2 linked regions of the Homo sapiens genome follow. The protein of the gene in region 1 purifies or fractionates together with the protein of each later gene. This does not show direct contact. Each region holds a gene or a part of one and is shown on either strand. Other genes may lie near its edges. The genes, in order: CKAP5 and TACC2.

What was found.
Region 2: the proteins of CKAP5 (region 1) and TACC2 purify together in Homo sapiens (affinity purification with mass spectrometry, with the first as the bait; 2 studies listed by BioGRID). This does not show direct contact.

The regions. Positions count from the first base shown.
Region 1 is NC_000011.10:46,834,589-46,844,313, reverse strand, and holds part of CKAP5 (cytoskeleton-associated protein 5), read left to right. Parts: intron 1-9,725. UniProt on the Homo sapiens protein: Binds to the plus end of microtubules and regulates microtubule dynamics and microtubule organization. Acts as a processive microtubule polymerase. Promotes cytoplasmic microtubule nucleation and elongation. Plays a major role in organizing spindle poles.
Region 2 is NC_000010.11:122,207,403-122,217,127, forward strand, and holds part of TACC2 (transforming acidic coiled-coil-containing protein 2), read left to right. Parts: intron 1-2,471; exon of another isoform or gene 2,472-2,567; intron 2,568-2,994; coding exon 2,995-4,306; intron 4,307-5,939; coding exon of another isoform or gene 5,940-5,975; intron 5,976-7,988; coding exon 7,989-8,049; intron 8,050-9,224; coding exon 9,225-9,426; coding exon of another isoform or gene 9,427-9,519; intron 9,520-9,725. UniProt on the Homo sapiens protein: Plays a role in the microtubule-dependent coupling of the nucleus and the centrosome. Involved in the processes that regulate centrosome-mediated interkinetic nuclear migration (INM) of neural progenitors.

The sequences.
Region 1 (9,725 bases):
CATATGAAGTGTGTTTGAATATACCAACTCTCCTGTAAACTTTTATCTTAATTCCATCAACACTCACTTTCTTTTCCTTTTTTTTTTTTTTTAAGACAGAGTCTTGCTCTTTCGCCCAGGCTAGAGTGCAGTGGTGCGATCTCAGCTGACTGCAACCTCTGCCTCCTGGGTTCAAGCGATTCTGCCACCTCAGCCTCCCAAGTAGCTGGGACTTCTTGTGTGCACCACAATGCCCAGCTAATTTTTTGTATTTTTAGTAGAGACAGGGTTTCACTATGTTGGCCAGGCTGGTCTCGAACTCCTGACCTCAAATGATCCACCCGCCTCAGCTTCCCAAAGTGTTGGGATTACAGGTGTGAGCCACCACACCTGGCTAACCCTCACTTTTCTAACTGTAGCTTCTATTAGGACTTTATCAACAGGTTTTGTTTTTGCAATACTAGGTAGGGGAAGTGTTCCCCAGCCAGACATAATATCCATTCCTAATAAAACACATTTACATATAGGAGACACAGCTTCCAACTTTCATAGTTCTGTCAACACTTACATCTTTGTGTTCTCTCAATTTTTTTTTTTTTTTTTTTTCAATCAGATCTCACTCTTTCGCCCTGGCTGGAGTGCAGTGCTGCTATTATGGGTCACTGCAGCCTCCACCTCCAGGGCTCAGGTGATCCTCCCATCTCAGCCTTCCGGTAGCTGGGACTACAGACGTGCATCACCATGCCTGGCAAATTTTTTTAGTTTTTGTAGCGATGGGGTTTTGCCTTGTTGCCCAGGCTGGTCTCGAACTCCTGGGCTCAAGGGATCCTTTTGTCTCGGCCTCCCAAAATGCTGGGATTACAGGCGTGAACCACTACGCCTGGCCTTCTCTTAATCTAACTGTAGCCCTGTTCGGGGCTTCACCAATGGCTCTTGGTACTACTGTACCTGGGGCTTCCATATGAAGGAGTCCCAGGAATTTCTTTTTGCCACTCCCTGACCATTTTACCTACTTATATACAGAAGGCTTGGGGTCCCCAGCAGGTGGTTGAGCCAAGAGACCCTTGCCCATTTGCCAGTCTTTATCTTGACTCATCTACCTATTGTTTCCACAATTTCAGATCAGATTTCTCATTGTAATCTGCCTCCTGACTTACAATTTCTCCAAACTGGGGTAAATATAGCAAACTTGTTTGGAACCCCTTAATGGTGGGAGACCAGCAGGGTCTCCCTTTGGCTCCCAGGCTAGTCTTGAACTCCTGGGCTCAAGTGATCATCCTGTCTTGGCCTCCCAAAGTGCTGGGATTATAGGCATGAGCCACCACACCCTGCTACCTTACTTCTTTTTTTTTTTTTTTTTTTTTTTTTGAGACGGAGTCTTGCTCTGTCACCCAGGCTGGAGTGCGGTGGCGCGATCTCGGCTCACTGCAAGCTCCGCCTCCCAGGTTCACGCCATTCTCCTGCCTCAGCCTCCCAAGTAGCTGGGACTACAGGCGCCCGCTACCAAGCCCGGCTAATTTTCTGTATTTTCAGTAGAGATGGGGTTTCACCTTGTTAGCCAGGATGGTCTCGATCTCCTGACCTCGTGATCCGCCCGCCTCGGCCTCCCAAAGTGCTGGGATTACAGGCGTGAGCCACCGCGCCCGGCCTACCTTACTTCTTAATAACCATTTAAAAATTTCCACCTTCCGGGTTGAATCCATTTGCCCTCTGTCTCACCATTCTCTTAACCTAATGGTTTTATTAGCATCTGTAAGACCCACGAGAGGAAACTGAGACAGCACATTTGATAAGGCTTCTCGAACTGTCTTTTGATTTTGCAACAGTAAGGTTATCCACATTAAGGGGTCACCCTTAACCACAGCATTTACCATGACTGGGTAGTGGGCATATTCAGAGGGTAAATGTCCTAGTCATCATAAAGCCAGTTTCACATGGCTTGCATATGAAGTATATCAGTGGCTCTATCTGGATCTGGGGTGTTCCACTTGGCATTTATGGAATCAGACTGTCCCCTTCAGGAAGCTTATGATACTAATGTACAAAGTGAAACAATTCCTTCACATTGTACCCCCTGGTTTCAATAGTTCTTTGATTTTTGCAGACCACCTTCTTTGTTACCAGAGGTCTTAGAAGCACTTTCTGTTGTCCCGGCATACATTTTTCCCTTGAGGGACAGCTTTGAGGTTAGTGGCCTAAGCTCTCACATTCACTGAAAGCTGAGCTTGGTCTAGCGGGAAGGTCCAACCCACCACTTTCTTTTAATTTCATTTTAGCTGTTACAGATAACAATAACCAAGGGATTTAACATTTCGCTTTTTTTTTTTTTTTTTTTTTGAACCAAAGTCTTACTCTTTCTCCAGGGCTGGAGTGCAATGGCACGATCTCGGCTCACTGCAACCTCTGCCTCCCAGGCTCAAGTGATTCTCCTGCCTCAGCCTCCTGAGTAGCTGGGATTACAGGCGTGAGCCACAGCACCCGCCTAAATTTTTTGTATTTTTAGTAGAGATGGAGTTTCACTGTTAGCCAGATGGTCTCAATCTCCTAACCTCGTGATCCTCCTGCCTTGGCCTCCCAAAGTGCTGGGATTACAGGCGTGAGCCACCGTGCCGAGCCAGCATATCACTTTTTTAATACTAGTTTGCATTTCCTTGTGCATCCTGTGAACCAACTCCCAGGCAGTTGGATCCATCTCTGGATTCCATGGATAACTTTTACCTTTAGTAATTGATGACAGCACAGCTTCAGCTCTTTACCATGGGTGACCACTTGGCCACCTAAGAATCAAAGTTCTTTATCCCTATCCTTTTATCCTTTTTCTTCCCAAACCATATGTGTCTGTGAGCCAAGTCATTCTAGCAAATCCCAATTCTGACGCCAATTCTGAGAATATAGAATAAGAAACTTTAATAAGTTTATCTTATACTCTCACAATACAGAAAACTTCTGTGACCTCAGATGTGTGAGATTTTTTTCCCCACACACCAAGCAAGTAGTTCTTCAGCAGTGGACACTAGCTGTGTGTCCTCTAATTCAGTTCAATTCTGACACCTTTTTTTTTTTTTTTGAGACAGAATTGCTCTGTTGCCCAGGCTGGAGTGCGGTGGCGCAGTCTTGGCTGACTGCAACCTCTGTCTCCCGGGTTCAAGAGATTCTCCTTCCTCAGCCTCCCGAGTAGCTGGGATTACAAGAACCCACCACAACACCCATCTAATTTTTTGTATTTTTAGTAGAGACGGGGTTTCTCCATTTTGGCCAGGCTGGTCTTGAACTCCTGGCCTCAAGTGATCCGCCCGCCTCAGCCTCCCAAAGTGCTGGGATTACAGGCATGAGCCACCTCACCTGGCCAATTCTGACACTTTCTATCTGGAGGTAGTGTCAGATCCCACAGGTTGAGGGTTTAGTCCCAGAAGACTGCCCCCAACTCAGATGCCAATCTGAAGCCCCAGGTTTTTTTTTACCTGTGCTTCTGTAGGCTGACTATAAAAATGGGCATTCCTAATACCGCCCCCCATTCCCTGCCTTGGGTTTGATTAATTTGCTAGACCTGTTCATAGAACTCAGGAAAACACATTTTCCAGCCAGTTTATTATAAAGGATATTGCAAAGGATACAAAGAGCTATATAGGGTGAGGTATAGGGGAAGAGGCATGGAGCTTCCATGCCCTCTCTGGGCACACCACGCTCCAGGGACCACCATGTGTTCAGCTCTCAGCTTCTCCAGCAGCAAAGTTTTAATTGCAATAAATTTGAGTACCTTAATATTATGAACACTGTTCTAGGTTTTTGGTAAGCAATTAAAAATAATAAACAACTTTAACAGTGCCTTAGGATAAGTGTTAAAAATTTTGACAGGGAATGAGTATGTTAAGGTAAAGCCAGGCTCTCTTATGCTCCTTTAATGGGGTCTTATTCATTCATTGAACAGATATTGAGATTGATGCTTAATGTCTGTCACACATTGTTCTAGATTCAGGGAATACACTGGTGAACCAGAAAAAGACAAAGGCCCTGACCTAAGGGAGTTTGACAGTTTTATCTGTCAAACAATTTACTGTAGCAAATTATAGTTTCTGTAATCCCTCTGGGGTCAGCTCTGGTCCTTGAATAAAATACATGCCCAGATACTTTTACTAGCAGTAGCTAACATGTATTGAATGCCTACTGGGTCCCACATTTTGTTTAATTAATTAATTAATTAATTTTTTTGAGACAGGATCTCACTCTGTCGCCCAGGCTGGAGTGTAGTGGTGTGATCATGGCTCACTGTAGACTCAACCTCCTGGGCTCAATCTGTCCTCCCACCTCAGCCTCCCAAGTAGGTGGGCCTACAGGCACATGCTAATTTTTGTATTTTTTGTAGAGATGGGGTTTTGCCATGTTACTCAGGCTGGTCTCAAACTCCTGGGCTTAAGCAATCTGCCCTCCTTACCCTCCCAAATTGCTGGGGTTACAAGCATGAGCCAACATGTCCCGCTACATTTTATCTTTTTTTATCCTCACAATGTTTTACAGATGAGGAAACTGAGTCTTTAAAAGGCTGTGCAACATGCTCAAAATCATAGAACTAAGTGATAGAATCTGAATTCAAACCCAAGTCAGTCTGTCTCCAGGGCCTTTGCTCTTAACCTATGATTGTACTACGTGAAGTAGGGATCTGTAGGAGAATTCAGGAGCAATTTCTGGGTAGAATTCCCCCAGCCCCTTTTAAAAAAGTACTTCTATCGGAGATGTGATGAAATATGAATGACAGGCATGATAGTTTTTAGAGGAAAGATGGCATTTACCATATGGAAGATGGACAACTGTGACAGTGGTGGCGGTGGGTAGCTAAAGGGACGCATAAAAATTGAGTTCTTAATCTAATTAGGATTCTTGGTAGTCAATGTTGGAGAGTTTTAAGGTTTTTAAATGATTTTCCTATTCTTGCCTCTGGAGTTTAGAATACATTACTTAGCTCATTTCTATCAGGGCAGTTACTCTACCTACTTGATGTGTATAACTCCAACACATTACGCTTATTCTTTTCGGTCTTTGCATTCTGTTCTGGAACTTCTCACTTCACTCTACCCCTACCCCCAGCCTGTATTACTGGCACTCTCAGGCTTCAACTTAAATGTCATCTCCTTAAAGAGACACTTTTCTGAGCTCTGAATTAGAGGAGCCCTCTTGGTCACTTTTACTTCACTTTTCCTTATTTACTTCATAGCATATATTGTTATGTAATTGTTTATTGTTTGTCTATATATTGTTAGATTTTCTCATAAAAATGAAAGCAGAACATAGATTTTTTTTTTCCTTTGAGGTTACCTCAGTGACTCAACAATGCCTGCAACAAACTAGGTGGTCAAAAATATTTGTTGAACAAAATTGGCCAAAACTGGCATCATCTTCTCTGAACAAAAAAGTGATAAAAACAGTATCTGACTATTCAGTTGGCTGTGTTTCTGTGTCTTTATTTATTTTTTTTTATTTTTATATTCTAAAAATGTTGCGACAATGGTGGCTCAGCAATTTTTTTTTTTTTTTTTTTTTTTTTTTGAGATGGGGTCCCACTCTGTCTCCTAGGCTGGAGTGTGTTGGCCTGATCTCTGCTTACTGCAACCTTCACCTCCCGGGCTCAAGGGATCCTCTCACCTCAGCCTCTAGTGGCTGGGACTACAGGCGAGTGCCACCACACCCGGCTAATTTTTTTTTTTTTTTTTTTTTTTTTTTTTGAAGAGGCAAGGTATTACTATGTTGCCCAGGATGGTCTTGAACTCTTGGACTCAAGTGATCTGCCTGCCTCGGCCTCCCAAAGTGCTAAAGTGCTAGGATTACAGGCGTGAGCCACCGTGTCTGGCTGTCATTTTTTTCTTTTTGTGGAGACACAGTCTCAGTATGTTGCCTAAGCTGGTCTTGAACTCCTGGCCTCAAACAATCCTCTCGCTCCAGCATCCAAAGTGCTGGGATTACTGGTGTGAGCCACTGCACCAGGCTTGTTCCTGTGTTTTTGGGTGTAAGCAGTATCTTAACAGTCTCAATTAGTCTTAAAATTATTTTAGACTAGTTCAGAAAGTCTTTAAGAAAGCTAGAAAAATTATACATCTGAATTTTTTAAAAAAATTTTAATCTGTTTTGAGAGGTACTAGTCAAATACATTGTAAGATGTCCTTCTATTGGAATTTGTCTGATGTTTTTCTCATTAGACTGGAGTTACAGGTTTTGGGCAGGAAGACCACAGAGGTAAAGTGCCATTTTCATCACATCATATCAAGGGTACATGCTATCAACATGATTTATGACTTAATATTGACCTTGACTGTTCATATTGACCTGAAATAGTGTTTGTGAGGTTTCTACAGTGAATTTACTTTTTTTTCCCCTCCTTTTCTATACTGTATTCTTTGAAGGGAAGTCACTGTTTGCAGCCCACACTTAAGGAATGGGGAGTTCCTTGATCTTAGGGTGGAGTACCTACTTAATTTATTTGAAATTCTTGTCTCTCCTTTCCCATTTATTAGTTTAGTCAAGTATTTACTGATAATAGTGTGGACTCAAGTATATTTATTTTATATTTTAGGTTACACTCCAATATTACATTATTTTGTTGTTCAGGTTGTTCCAGCTTTGTCCTTTGGGAGCTTCCTGTATTCCTTTAACATACATGTGTGTGTGTGTGCGCGTATTTGTATTGATCTTTGAGTACTTCCTTACTATCTGGAAATGTTCCAGGCTCATCTTGTGTATTTCTTGTCCCAGTGCTAGAATCAGCCATTTCCCCAAGGTGCCCTGGTTCCCTTATTGGAGAATGCTATTAGAAACAAGACCTGGGTACTGAGTGTTCTCTTTGCTACTGGGGTGTCATTTCTTTTAGGTCCTTTCAACTGTTAGAGCAAAGAAATATATGAATGTATGCTAACCCCATGTATATAGACATATCTATAAATATTTCTCTATGTAGCCATCTGTGTCTATATTAAGTTAAACGAGTTCCATAGATCACTTTCAGTAGTATGGGCGGGGGGGAAAAACATGAGTTCCTACTGGTGTCTCCAATTCTGATCCATTATCACATAGATCATTCTAGCCTCCTCCCCTTGCTGATCTTTGAATTTCCATTCACAATAGTGAAAAACCTAATTTCCACCATCCATTTATTTAATTGTCCAGTTCCATTATATATGGATATACATACATGGATAGCAGTATCAGAATTGCTAACCCATACTCCATGAAAAAAACTTTATCAACTAGAGTACATACTTCTGTGCAGTTCCTTTTGCCCTTAATCTTTCAGACTCCACTCATTACCAAAGCTACTTAGGTCAGAACCTTTTTCCCACCCCCTTTGGTGAAGTTGTTTCACACATCTGTAATATAGATTCCCTTGTCATAGTCTTCATTCTTTTCTGCAATCTCCCAGTCTCCTAAATGACTTTTTAAAATTTGCATACATTAAAGTTCACTCTTTATGTCATAAAAGTCTCGAACTCCTGCCTTGGCCTCCCAAAAGTGCTGGGATTAACAGTACAACCCACTGTGCCCAGCTGACATAAATTTTTAATTCAGTTGGATAAATACCTAGAAGCAGGTTGCTGGATCATATGGTAAGACTAGTTATAGTTTTGTAAGAAACTGCCAAACTCTATTCCAGAGTGGCTGTACCATTTTGCATTCCTATTAGCAATGAATGAGAGTTCCTCTTGCTCCACGTTCTTAACAGCACTTAGTTCTATCTGGTTTTTGGATTTTAGCCCTTCTGGTAGGTATGTAGTGTCCCCACTTTATTATTATTATTATTTTAAAGAGATGGGGTCTCACTGTGTTGACCAGGCTGGTCTCAAACTCCTGGCCTCAAGCAATCCTCCCATCTCAGCCTCCTGAAATGCTAGGATTATAGGTTTGAGCCACTGTGCCTGACCTAGTGTTCTCACTTTTTAAAATTATTCGTTTTCACGACATTACCTTTTTTGAAAATAAATGTTAGTTTTTTAAGAGGAAACTTTTTAAAAATTAACTTTATTTTGGAATAATTATAGATTGTTCCAACAGAAAAGTTGCAAAGATGATGTGTAGGATTCCTGCATACCTCTCACCCAGTGTGCCCTGTTATTAACATCGTTTAAACAAACTCCAGATTCTGTTTGTGTTTCAACAGTTTTTCTATTCATGTGCCCATTCTGTTTCAGGATCCAATTCAGGGTAACATATTGCACTTCGTGGTCATCTCTATTAGCCTTCTCTGGTCTTTGGCAATTTCTCAGTCCTTCCTTGTTTTCATGACCATGACCATTTTGAGGAGTACTAGTCAGTTGTTTTGTAGACTGCCCTTCTCTTTGTCTTTGTCTGATATTTTTCTCATGATTAGTCAAGAATTACGTGTTTTTGGAAAGAATACCATAGAATACCATATCATATCAGGGGTTTTGTGATATCCATGTGACATCATTAGTGATATTAACCATGATCACTTGATTAAGTTAGTGTTTGCTAGGTTAAGTATTAAAGTTAGTATTTTTCCCTTTCTATAGCTATTCTTATGAAAATGAGTAGCCAGGTCTAGCCCACCCCCAAAGTGGGTGAAGGGATTAGATTCCACTTCCCGGAGTTAAGGGTATCTACATATATTCGGAATTTTGTAAGGAAGATTTGTCTCTTTTCACCCATTTATTGCTTTATTCCACTGTTTGTATCTTATGGACTAGTGTGTATGTGTGAGTGTGTATTGGCTTGTGTATATTTATTCTGTACTTTGAGATTTTATAATCTATTTTTTTCCGTCGAATAATTCCAGCTTTGACTGTTGGGAGCTCTTTTTGGTTGGCTCCTGTGTCCCTTTGACATGCCCCCATCTTTTTAATTTTTTTTTTCTTTTTGAACACTTTCTTATTTTCTGGTACTTTAATATGCTCCAGGCTCATCTTTTATTTTCTCTGCTCTAACCCTAGAATTAGACATTTCTCCAAAGATTTCTGGTTCCTTTTGCTTGGTATTTAGAAACCGAGATCTGGATACTCTGCCGTCTGCTCCTTGCTAGTGGGGTGTCAGTGTTTCTAGGCCTTCTCAGCCAAAACAGCCAGGTAATATATATATGTATTTTAAAGGATAATGGTGGATGATTATTCATTTATACTTTATTTTTATTTTTTTAGTTGATATTTTATTTTATTGACTTCTCTCAAACAGATTCTATTCACTCTTCTATGCACAATTTCAGCCTGCTTGGTTCTTTAAATCAATTGCTAAATTAGAAAGAAGGCACTGCTACAAGATAACTAGAAGTGTTAGCTTGATCACAAAGGTCGCGAAACGAAAGCTGTAAAATATAAAGCCAGCCTGAGCAACATAGACAGACCTCATATCTAGGAAAAAAAAAAAAAATTAGCTGGGAGTGGTGGTGCATGCCTGTGGCCCAGCTACTTGGGAGGCAGAGGTGGGAGGATTACTTGGGCCTGGGAGGTGGAGGCAGCAGTGAGCCATGTTTGTGCCACTGTATTCCAGCCCAGACGACAGAGTGAGACCCTGTCTAAAAAAGAAAAGAAAAATCTCTATCCAGTACATAAAAATATTTTTATGCTTTAGAGGGCTGCCTACAAATTTTGAGCAATGTTTAATATGGGAGATTCCTCCAAACCTATGGATAGTCCCCTTGAATATCACCAAATAGCATATAATTTTTTAATAGTGAATCTGCTTTCTATAGGATGAAAAGGAATAGATTGCTTGTACACCCAGAGAAGCAGTTTGTTTTAGACCAGAGAGGA
Region 2 (9,725 bases), on another chromosome or scaffold:
AACCAACACAATAAGACAGCCGTTCCCAACCAGGGAGGATTTTGCCCCCACAAGGGTACATGGCAATGTCTAGACACAGTGTTGGTTGTCACAGCTGGGGTAAGGGTGGGGCCTACTGGCATCCATTGTGTGGAGGCCAGGGATGCTGGTAAGCATCCTACAGGGCACAGGACAGCCCCCAGCATAAAAATCTGACTGCCCCCAAATGACCATAATGCCAAGGATAAGAAACCCTGCAGCAAGATTAGGTTTCCTGGTTCATGATGAGCTAATGAGAGCATGTCAGTTCTAAAGAGGAAAGCCATGCTAAGCAGGCAGGGAGCTCTTTCTTCTGGAGGAAGCAATGAGCAGATGGTTAAGCTCATTGTTGCGTGATAACTGCTGACATTTGAAGGGCCTCCGAAGGCTTCCTTCTGCAGGCTGCAGAGGCACGTGTAACGGCCTGAGAGGGAGAGGGTTGGTGTTTGTGGGCCTTGACGACGGGATAGGCTGAGGCTCGTGCTTCCTCCTGCCAAGGCCCATTTGAAAGCACCTGGTCCCCCTCAGCATCCCCTGGTCCTCTGTTCCCTCCGTGTATCCAGGGGCAATTACAGAGCAGGAAGAGGAGGTCACGGCTGGTGGGAGGATGGGGTACTTGAGAGTACTAGGGCCTAGAGGAAACAGGGAGTTGATTTTAGAAAGAAGCGAGGCAACACCTTTTGAAATGAGAAGGAAGGAGTGTTTGGAGAAACCGTTTGGTAGAAAGAGCTCCGTATTTAGGGCGTCTGCTCCAGGTAGGCCCTGGGTGGAGAAGAGGAGAGTGAGAGGCTTGAAACCAGGACTAGCTCATAGATGTGCTTCCAAATGATGCTTTCAATCCAAGCGTTTATTGATCCTGTAAGAAAGTGTGACCAGTCAAGGGGGAAACAAAGCCAAGGCCAGTTCCTGAACTCAAGAACCTTGAAGTTTTCTTGTGTTGTGAGCTGAGTTCTCTGCCAGGTACTCCAGGAGAAAGGTTGCTATGAGCAAAGCTTGGTAAGCACTCTGCAGAATACTCACTGCCCAGAGATTTGCAGTCGGGAGCATGAATTGCTCTGAGAAAATCGACAGGAAGAGACCAGTTCAGGGGTTAATTGTGCATTTCCCAAACCTTGTTTGTTTGTTGGGATGAGAGATAGGGCTCCCTGATTTAGCAAATGAAAATACAGGGTGCCCATTAAATCTGAATCTTAGATAAACAAAGAATCATCGAGACATGGGACATACTTATATTAAAAAACATGTTCATTTATCTGAAATTCAAATCAGCTGAACATCCTGTCCTTTGTCTGGCAACCATGCCGGTGGCAGAAGGGGACTGGGGGTACATAACACCTGTCACGAGGCACACATTGGAAACGCTGTCCCAGGTCTTACCTGTGCCAGCTCCGTTTACTCCTCATTCTGCATCTCCCAGTACTTAGGCCTGCAGACCGCTTTATCGTGTTTGCCCTCTTGTCCAATGACACACTTTTAGTTTTCTGGCATCCTTGACTGCCTGGAGCAGCTGTGACCTCAGAAATGCATGAAAGATGCCGCTGGGTGCCAGCAGAACCTAGAGTAGCCAAGCCAAAGCTGGGGCTGGCCGGATCCCCATGGGCAGTAGGGTGGTGGCACCTTTGAGCATCATTTGGCCAACATTTGCAGCATCTGCAGCATGTTTGGGAAATAGGAGCAACCTCCTTGACTGGCAGGGGCTGATGAGGTAGAAAAGCTGAGAGGAGGCAGCTGGGAGAGCAGTGAGACTAGGCAAGAGGCAGGGCCAAGGATAGGCAGGCAGGACTGAAGGAGAGGTTACAGGTGATGGCTGGAGCGGCAGGTGGCAGACAGCAAGTGCTACTACAGGTGCCGGGGGCCTCCGTGTACAGGCTCCCCTGATCTTCACAGTGGCTCTGAGGAGTCAAGAACAGGCTTGCTGGTGGCCGTGGCTAGTATGAATATTTATGGAAGCCTCCGTATGCCTTCCTGCAGGATTTCTCTGTCTTCCTGTCCCACTCTTGACCCTTGCTTTAGCCACACTGGCCTCCTCGCTGTTTCTGTAACGCACCAGGTGCTCCTGCCGCAGAGCCTTTACTCGCACTATTCCTTCTACCCAGGATGCTTCCTCCCCAGGAGTCCTCCTGTTTCATGCACTTACCTTGATTCTGGCCTTTGCTTAGATGTCTCCTCAGAAGATCTTGCCTGACTACCTTATTTTAAAAGTGAAACTCTCCTATCCCGGCTTTATTTTTCTCCTTAGCATGTATCACCCTCTGAAATTCTGTACATTGTTTGTTTGTTTTTGAGACAGAGTCTCACTCACTCTGTCACCCAGGCTAGAGTACAGTGGCGCAATCTCGGCTCTCTGCAACCTCTGGCTCCCAGGCTCAAGCGATTCTCCTGCCTCAGGCTCCGGAATAGCTGGGATTACAGGCGCTCACCACCATGCCTGGCTAATTTTTGTGTTTTTTTAGTAGAGACTGGGTTTCACCATGATGACCAGGCTGGTCTCAAACTCCTGACCTCAAGTGATCTGCCTGCCTCGGCCTCCCAAAGTGCTGGGATTACAGGTGTGAGACACCATGCCCGGCCCTGGTGGTTTATTCGCTATCTTCCCCTGAAGAATGTGACTTCCAGGAAGGGAAAGGTTTTGTCTATTTCTGTTCCTTGTTGAATCTCTAGTACCTAGAACCATGTCTGGTCCTGATTAGGCACTTGGTGAATGTTTTTGAATGAATACTCTGAGCTGTTCTTTAATCGGTCCTCATGATCCTCATTGTACAGATGAGGGAACTCTGGGCGAACCTGGCCTGGGTCTTGAGCTAATTACGGGTAGGTCAGGTTCTGTACCCAAGTAGTACACACAGTGATGGGCGGGGTGGCCTGGGGCCGTGGTTTGTCAACCCCTACGCTGGAGGGTGATGTTTTGGTACAAGAGGAGAGGTGCCCCAATGCGTCCTGTGTCTGTAATTGATGGCGTTGTCTGTGTTTCCCCAGGATGTGGTTCTGAGACAGTCCCTGTCCCTGATGGCCCACGGAGCGACTCGGTGGAAGGAAGTCCCTTCCGTCCCCCGTCACACTCCTTCTCTGCCGTCTTCGATGAAGACAAGCCGATAGCCAGCAGTGGGACTTACAACTTGGACTTTGACAACATTGAGCTTGTGGATACCTTTCAGACCTTGGAGCCTCGTGCCTCAGACGCTAAGAATCAGGAGGGCAAAGTGAACACACGGAGGAAGTCCACGGATTCCGTCCCCATCTCTAAGTCTACACTGTCCCGGTCGCTCAGCCTGCAAGCCAGTGACTTTGATGGTGCTTCTTCCTCAGGCAATCCCGAGGCCGTGGCCCTTGCCCCAGATGCATATAGCACGGGTTCCAGCAGTGCTTCTAGTACCCTTAAGCGAACTAAAAAACCGAGGCCGCCTTCCTTAAAAAAGAAACAGACCACCAAGAAACCCACAGAGACCCCCCCAGTGAAGGAGACGCAACAGGAGCCAGATGAAGAGAGCCTTGTCCCCAGTGGGGAGAATCTAGCATCTGAGACGAAAACGGAATCTGCCAAGACGGAAGGTCCTAGCCCAGCCTTATTGGAGGAGACGCCCCTTGAGCCCGCTGTGGGGCCCAAAGCTGCCTGCCCTCTGGACTCAGAGAGTGCAGAAGGGGTTGTCCCCCCGGCTTCTGGAGGTGGCAGAGTGCAGAACTCACCCCCTGTCGGGAGGAAAACGCTGCCTCTTACCACGGCCCCGGAGGCAGGGGAGGTAACCCCATCGGATAGCGGGGGGCAAGAGGACTCTCCAGCCAAAGGGCTCTCCGTAAGGCTGGAGTTTGACTATTCTGAGGACAAGAGTAGTTGGGACAACCAGCAGGAAAACCCCCCTCCTACCAAAAAGATAGGCAAAAAGCCAGTTGCCAAAATGCCCCTGAGGAGGCCAAAGATGAAAAAGACACCCGAGAAACTTGACAACACTCCTGCCTCACCTCCCAGATCCCCTGCTGAACCCAATGACATCCCCATTGCTAAAGGTACTTACACCTTTGATATTGACAAGTGGGATGACCCCAATTTTAACCCTTTTTCTTCCACCTCAAAAATGCAGGAGTCTCCCAAACTGCCCCAACAATCATACAACTTTGACCCAGACACCTGTGATGAGTCCGTTGACCCCTTTAAGACATCCTCTAAGACCCCCAGCTCACCTTCTAAATCCCCAGCCTCCTTTGAGATCCCAGCCAGTGCTATGGAAGCCAATGGAGTGGACGGGGATGGGCTAAACAAGCCCGCCAAGAAGAAGAAGACGCCCCTAAAGACGTAAGTTCAGGGGTGGAGGTGGTAAGGATCAGAGGCGGGGGTGCGCATTGGCTGTGACCCTTGGTCATGTGCCTGGATAACCTTCGACTGCCCTAACCTTGCCCCTGGGTGCTGTGATGATGCCACGCTTACGGCCGTTGCACCAAGCAGACAATGTACGTGTTTTCCTTCCTCTCTGCGGTCACAGTGGTGGCATTTTCCCATCCACATACCCCTTTGTGTCCTTGATCTTTTGCTTTAATAAATCAATGGGCTGGAGCTTTACTTGTAGCCAAAGACCTAATGTTCAACTCCAGAGCAATCTGGGAGATCCCATGGAAGGGGAAAGGTCCTTAGAGATCTGGTTCATCTCCCTGTTGGTGACTGATTGCTTTTTGGAGAAGCTGGGAGATACACCCTTTAAAATATTAAAATGTATAGTACTTGTTTCTGCCTATTAATGAGACATTAGCCCAACCTACAAACATAGTAGATTCCAGGAGGCTCAGGAATGAGAGATGTGGCCTGGGCCCCTCCCTGCTGCACTCCAACCAGCCCGTAAGAAACACCCTTCTTTGTCTCCTTCCTTCTCTCCAGTCATCTTTTGTAGACAAAGTCCCTGCAAGTTCTGAAGAGATAAATGGAACCTGAAAGTGGGGAGCAAATCCCCACAATCCCCAGGAAGCCATTGGTCCTTGGCTCTATGGTCCCCAGACACTTGACAAGGCCAAGTACATCGTGCTTAAATATCAAACACCCATGCCTCCAGAATCCACCCCAGGACCCGGCTCTAATGTGGATGGCTGCTGGTCCTTTATTCTTTGGCCCCTGTGGTTAATATCTTGGCGATTTCCTTACTCTTACGGGAAGTATTGTCAGTAATTTAACAAGGCTGAGGAGATCAGTCTCCCAGGGGCAGCAGAACAGACCACAGCGCTGGCCCCTCTGGGTCTGCCTGGCACGAAAGAGACAGAACGACATGTTTACCTCCCATTCTGGGCTCCCCCTAACATTGAATTTCTGAGAAGAACCCAGGGCCTCCTGAGAGGAGGTCTCTACAGCAGGTTACCTTAGATCAACCTGCCACTGTCTAGTGGTGGCTGGAGGCCATCCTGGCCAAAATGGGGACTTTGTTTTAGATCAGTTACTCAACTAGGTCCCTACTAGAGACTCTCTAGAATTCACGTTGGAAACTTGATTTCAAGCCTGGAATAGGAGAAGTCTGCAATGGCTAGACTGCAAGGCCGTGCTCTCTCATCTGGAATGAGAGCCAACCTTAGCCGCCACCTCTTCCTTCTCCAAGATATGTTCTGTGTCTCATAGGCGTCCCCAGTCACTTTCTTGTTTGAATATTAGAGCTAACAGGGGTCAGGGAAGTTTACCCAACTGTGTCCTCACCTCTAGTGCAGACAGGGACTTTGGCGTGGAAGACCCTGCGTGGGTCTGACAAAGCTCTTGGGGCACCACGGCTTTGTGGGATCATTAGGATCAAGAGAGGAAGCTGTTCCCCAGCAGCTCCTTCCAAAAAGCTGGGGCATTGCCCTACAGCGGTGGCCGCCATATCCTAACCCATTAATAACCAGTTGTCTGCAGATTTATCTTTTTTGTCAGTTCCTTCTGTCTGTCTCTCTTTTTCTTTGTCTTCTTGTCTTAGGATGGTTGAAGATGTGATGTCTGTGTGTTCTCTGTTGTAAGTAAATTTAATGCAATCTGCCTCTTATGCCAAATGTGCTTATTTTTCTGCCTTTTGTTTCTGCTTCCAAGCCATTTTTATTTCCCCTCTGGCTGCTACTGATGTGTTTCTGTGGTGGGCCTGCGAATGATGGGGCATGGGGCTCCCCAGTAGCAAAGATTACTTTTCTGTTTCATAGTGATTTGCATAAGAGACTGCTTGGCTGTGAAAATGTGATTATCCAGCATCTGCCTGCTTATCAGGAATGGAACTTTTTTCCTTCCCTTGCATATTGGATGTCTTCATCTGAAATCAAACATTTTTTTTAAACTCTTCATTACATTTTTTCATTTTAAACTGGGCTAGTGGGCGATTGCTTTCAACACTACTGTGGCTTCACGTTAAAATAACTGTCTGGTCTAACCACAGGCAGCGACGGCCACAGCTTATTCTTGCTAACATGTAAAGCAGAAATATTTGGGCCGTTCCAAATTGAGGCCCACAGAGTGCCCTGAAATGCAGGGTCAGTGCAGAGTGGAGCACACAGCTGTGAGAGCCATCGCCAGGCTGCCCCAGTCCTGCATCCTCAGTCACCCAGGACCTGGCTGGGTGTCGGCATGCCTTGTCTGCCATCTGTGGGTCACCCTGCCACTTGTCAGTAGAAACAGAGCTGACCATTTCTGTGCCTCTGCTGCTTTGCCTCCCATGGCCAGGAGGGATCTGTGGGCAGCTCGGGGGGGTCCAAAGACATGCAACTTTTCCCTGTCCTTAGAAGGGAAGCCGGCCAGTCCAGGTGGCCAGCAGTCCCAGGATAGGGTCGAGTCCATCAGACTCTCTTCTGCCCAAGGGATTTCTTGAGTATTTTTGAGCCACTTAGCAACTATAAAATATATGGTTATATATTTATATGCATGAATAAATATATGCTTCAAGCTGCGATTGCACTGTTTTAATGGCAAATATTATAAATGCTGTAAATAGCCATTTATTTTTTTTTCATGATTAAATGCCATTGTTGGAGTGATTTGAGAGAACACAAGGAAGGAACTTGAATGCCAAATTGCTCTGCCCACCCAGTTAACATGCAAAGCAGGGGAGGGTGGTGGGATCTAAGGAGAGGGATCACCCCCCAAAGCCTTTGCTTTGCTGGGAGTGGGACCAACCCATGGAGGGGCTGGAGACGGGGCAGGGGCCAGTCTACAGGGTGGAAAGAGCCCCCATTCTGACTGTGGAAGTGACCCCCAGACTGCTCGGTGGACTTAATGGAACTGCTCAGGCTAAAAGGCATCCCTTTCTCCTGGGATCTGCTTCCTTGACCCTTCAGGAGTCTGATTTGGTGGTTTCCTTTGCCTCTCAGCCCCGCTATTCATATGGAGGAGAAAAAGGGAGAGAAGAGCTGTGAATCTTGTCTGTTTACCATGGTTAGGAGAAGACAAAAAAAATCATCTCTCCCCTGGCCCTACCTTTAGTCAGGATTCCACCTAGAAGCCTTCAGAGCATGGGAATCCATTGAGCTCAAAGATCCTGTGATAGGGAGGATTCAGGAGGTTCTCCTTGAGGACCCCGAACTTTCTATTTCTGCGTGGCCCCCTTCAGTTGTTCATTAAGTGAGGTGTCGCCTTGCCCGTCTGTAAATTGGTGTCCTGAGCCTAGAGCCCCTCCCCTAGCCTTAGTTGGGTTCAGATACCCCTGGAAGAATCCAGATAAATTAATCTGCTCACCAGAAATTTGCTTTATAAAATACGAACATTTAGTTAAATTTAGCTTCATTTTCTGGGTCATTCTCCAAAATGGCATCTCTTTAAAGATCTCCAGCTTGATGGATCTTTCCCTTGGGGGCAAAAATAATAGCTGTTAAAAAGTGAGAGTGGGTAGCCGGCGTGGCCTCTCGCTGGTGCTGGAGTGACAGAGGTGGGAGGGTGGCCTGGGCCAGATGGCTCCGCAGAGGCAGTAGCTTCGGTCCGCTCTGTACTGCTCTGGAGTGTTCCGTCCCTCTGCTTGTTGTGTTTACGTTTTCCATTTTGTTTCCAGTGACACATTTAGGGTGAAAAAGTCGCCAAAACGGTCTCCTCTCTCTGATCCACCTTCCCAGGTACAGTGTTCCTTTGATCTTGATGGTTTTATGCCCCCCCCGGGGGAGGTTTTCTTCGCTTGTTGACAAAGCTTTGCTTTCTGCTCATCCCGGGCCTGTTTCCAAGACCCTCTTCTTGCATTCTGTGTGGAGGGTCCCTCGATGTTTGCTTCACATTGTTTTGGTCCCTTCACTTTGCGGAAGATCAGAGTGTGTCCCGAGAGTGGGAAGACGTTCAGGAAAAACATTAGTTGGGCTCTGGAGGACCCACTCTGCTCCATTCAGGCCAGTTCATCTGCTGTGAACTTCTAGGACTGTCGAGATGAGAAAGTCTCTTGAGATGAACAAATATGCAGTGAGAAGGTGAAGAAACTCAGCAAGTGTCAGGAGCACTGAATTGTGCAGCCAAAATTGGAGTGGGAAGAAAAGGGAAGCCCCTCCCCTAAAGAAGTGGGGCTTAGGTTCTGTCTTGATTAGAGTCCCTCTTACCAGTTCCTCCATCAGATAGATTCCATTTCTTCTACCCTGTTTACAGACCAAGGAAAGTTATCGTCAAGCCTGTCAGTATGTTAGGGCTAATTTCTGGGTCATAAAACAAAACAGACCTGCCACCCCTCCAAATCTGAGCCAGCAAAGCCCCAGCCTGCAGACCCTGGCCAGAGTGGGGGCAGTGGAGGGAAGCACTCAGCCCTGGGGATAGGGGCTCAGGTCCCAGCTGCAGCTCTGTCCTGACCTCTCTAGGTTCCCACCCTGCCCTACTCCACTTCCCACTCTCCAGTGGAAATGGAGATAAGATCCCCCTTTTTCTGCCTCCAGGGACTGATGAGATGCTTGTCAGGTGATTCTGGTGATATTGATGTGCAGGCCTGAAGCACTGTGTGAGCCTCGCACAGCAGTCACAGTCGTAAAACTAGCAGGAATGCTCAAGTAACTAAGACACAAAATCCTGATTTTTTTTTTTTTTAAATTCATGGTCATTCCCTGAAACAAACCATCATAAAAGGAGATTCATAGAGGGAAGAATCTGTGTGTCCATCTGTTTCCTTAATGGACCATTTGGAGCAGAGTCTGAGAAGAGCATGCAGAGGATTGTGACCGGGACCTGTCCTGGCTAATGGGTCCCCAGACCTGAGGGTGGGCACAGTTTCTGACCAAGAGTCTGATGAGACAAGAAACAGTTTCTCTTCTCTTTGCAGGACCCCACCCCAGCTGCTACACCAGAAACACCACCAGTGATCTCTGCGGTGGTCCACGCCACAGATGAGGAAAAGCTGGCGGTCACCAACCAGAAGTGGACGTGCATGACAGTGGACCTAGAGGCTGACAAACAGGACTACCCGCAGCCCTCGGACCTGTCCACCTTTGTAAACGAGACCAAATTCAGTTCACCCACTGAGGGTAAGCAACTCTGTAGCCAGCTGGACCCCCACTCTGCCTCGGAGAATCCTGCCCCTAGGGAGCCAAAGGCCAGGAGAGAAACTTCTCAGCCAGGTAACCACGTGATCATCATTGTGAGATCGTCTGCACGTCTCCCGCTGCACTTGCAGCTCAGGCTGTGTTTGAAAACAGCCTGAGACTTGAAAGCAGCTGTCCCTTGACCCAAGACTCCTGCTAAGAGCCAGCACGGTGCCCTCTAACTCCACCTCAGGACTCCATCGAGTGGGTCCTGAGCGCCCACTCGAGCTTTGCCCATGGCT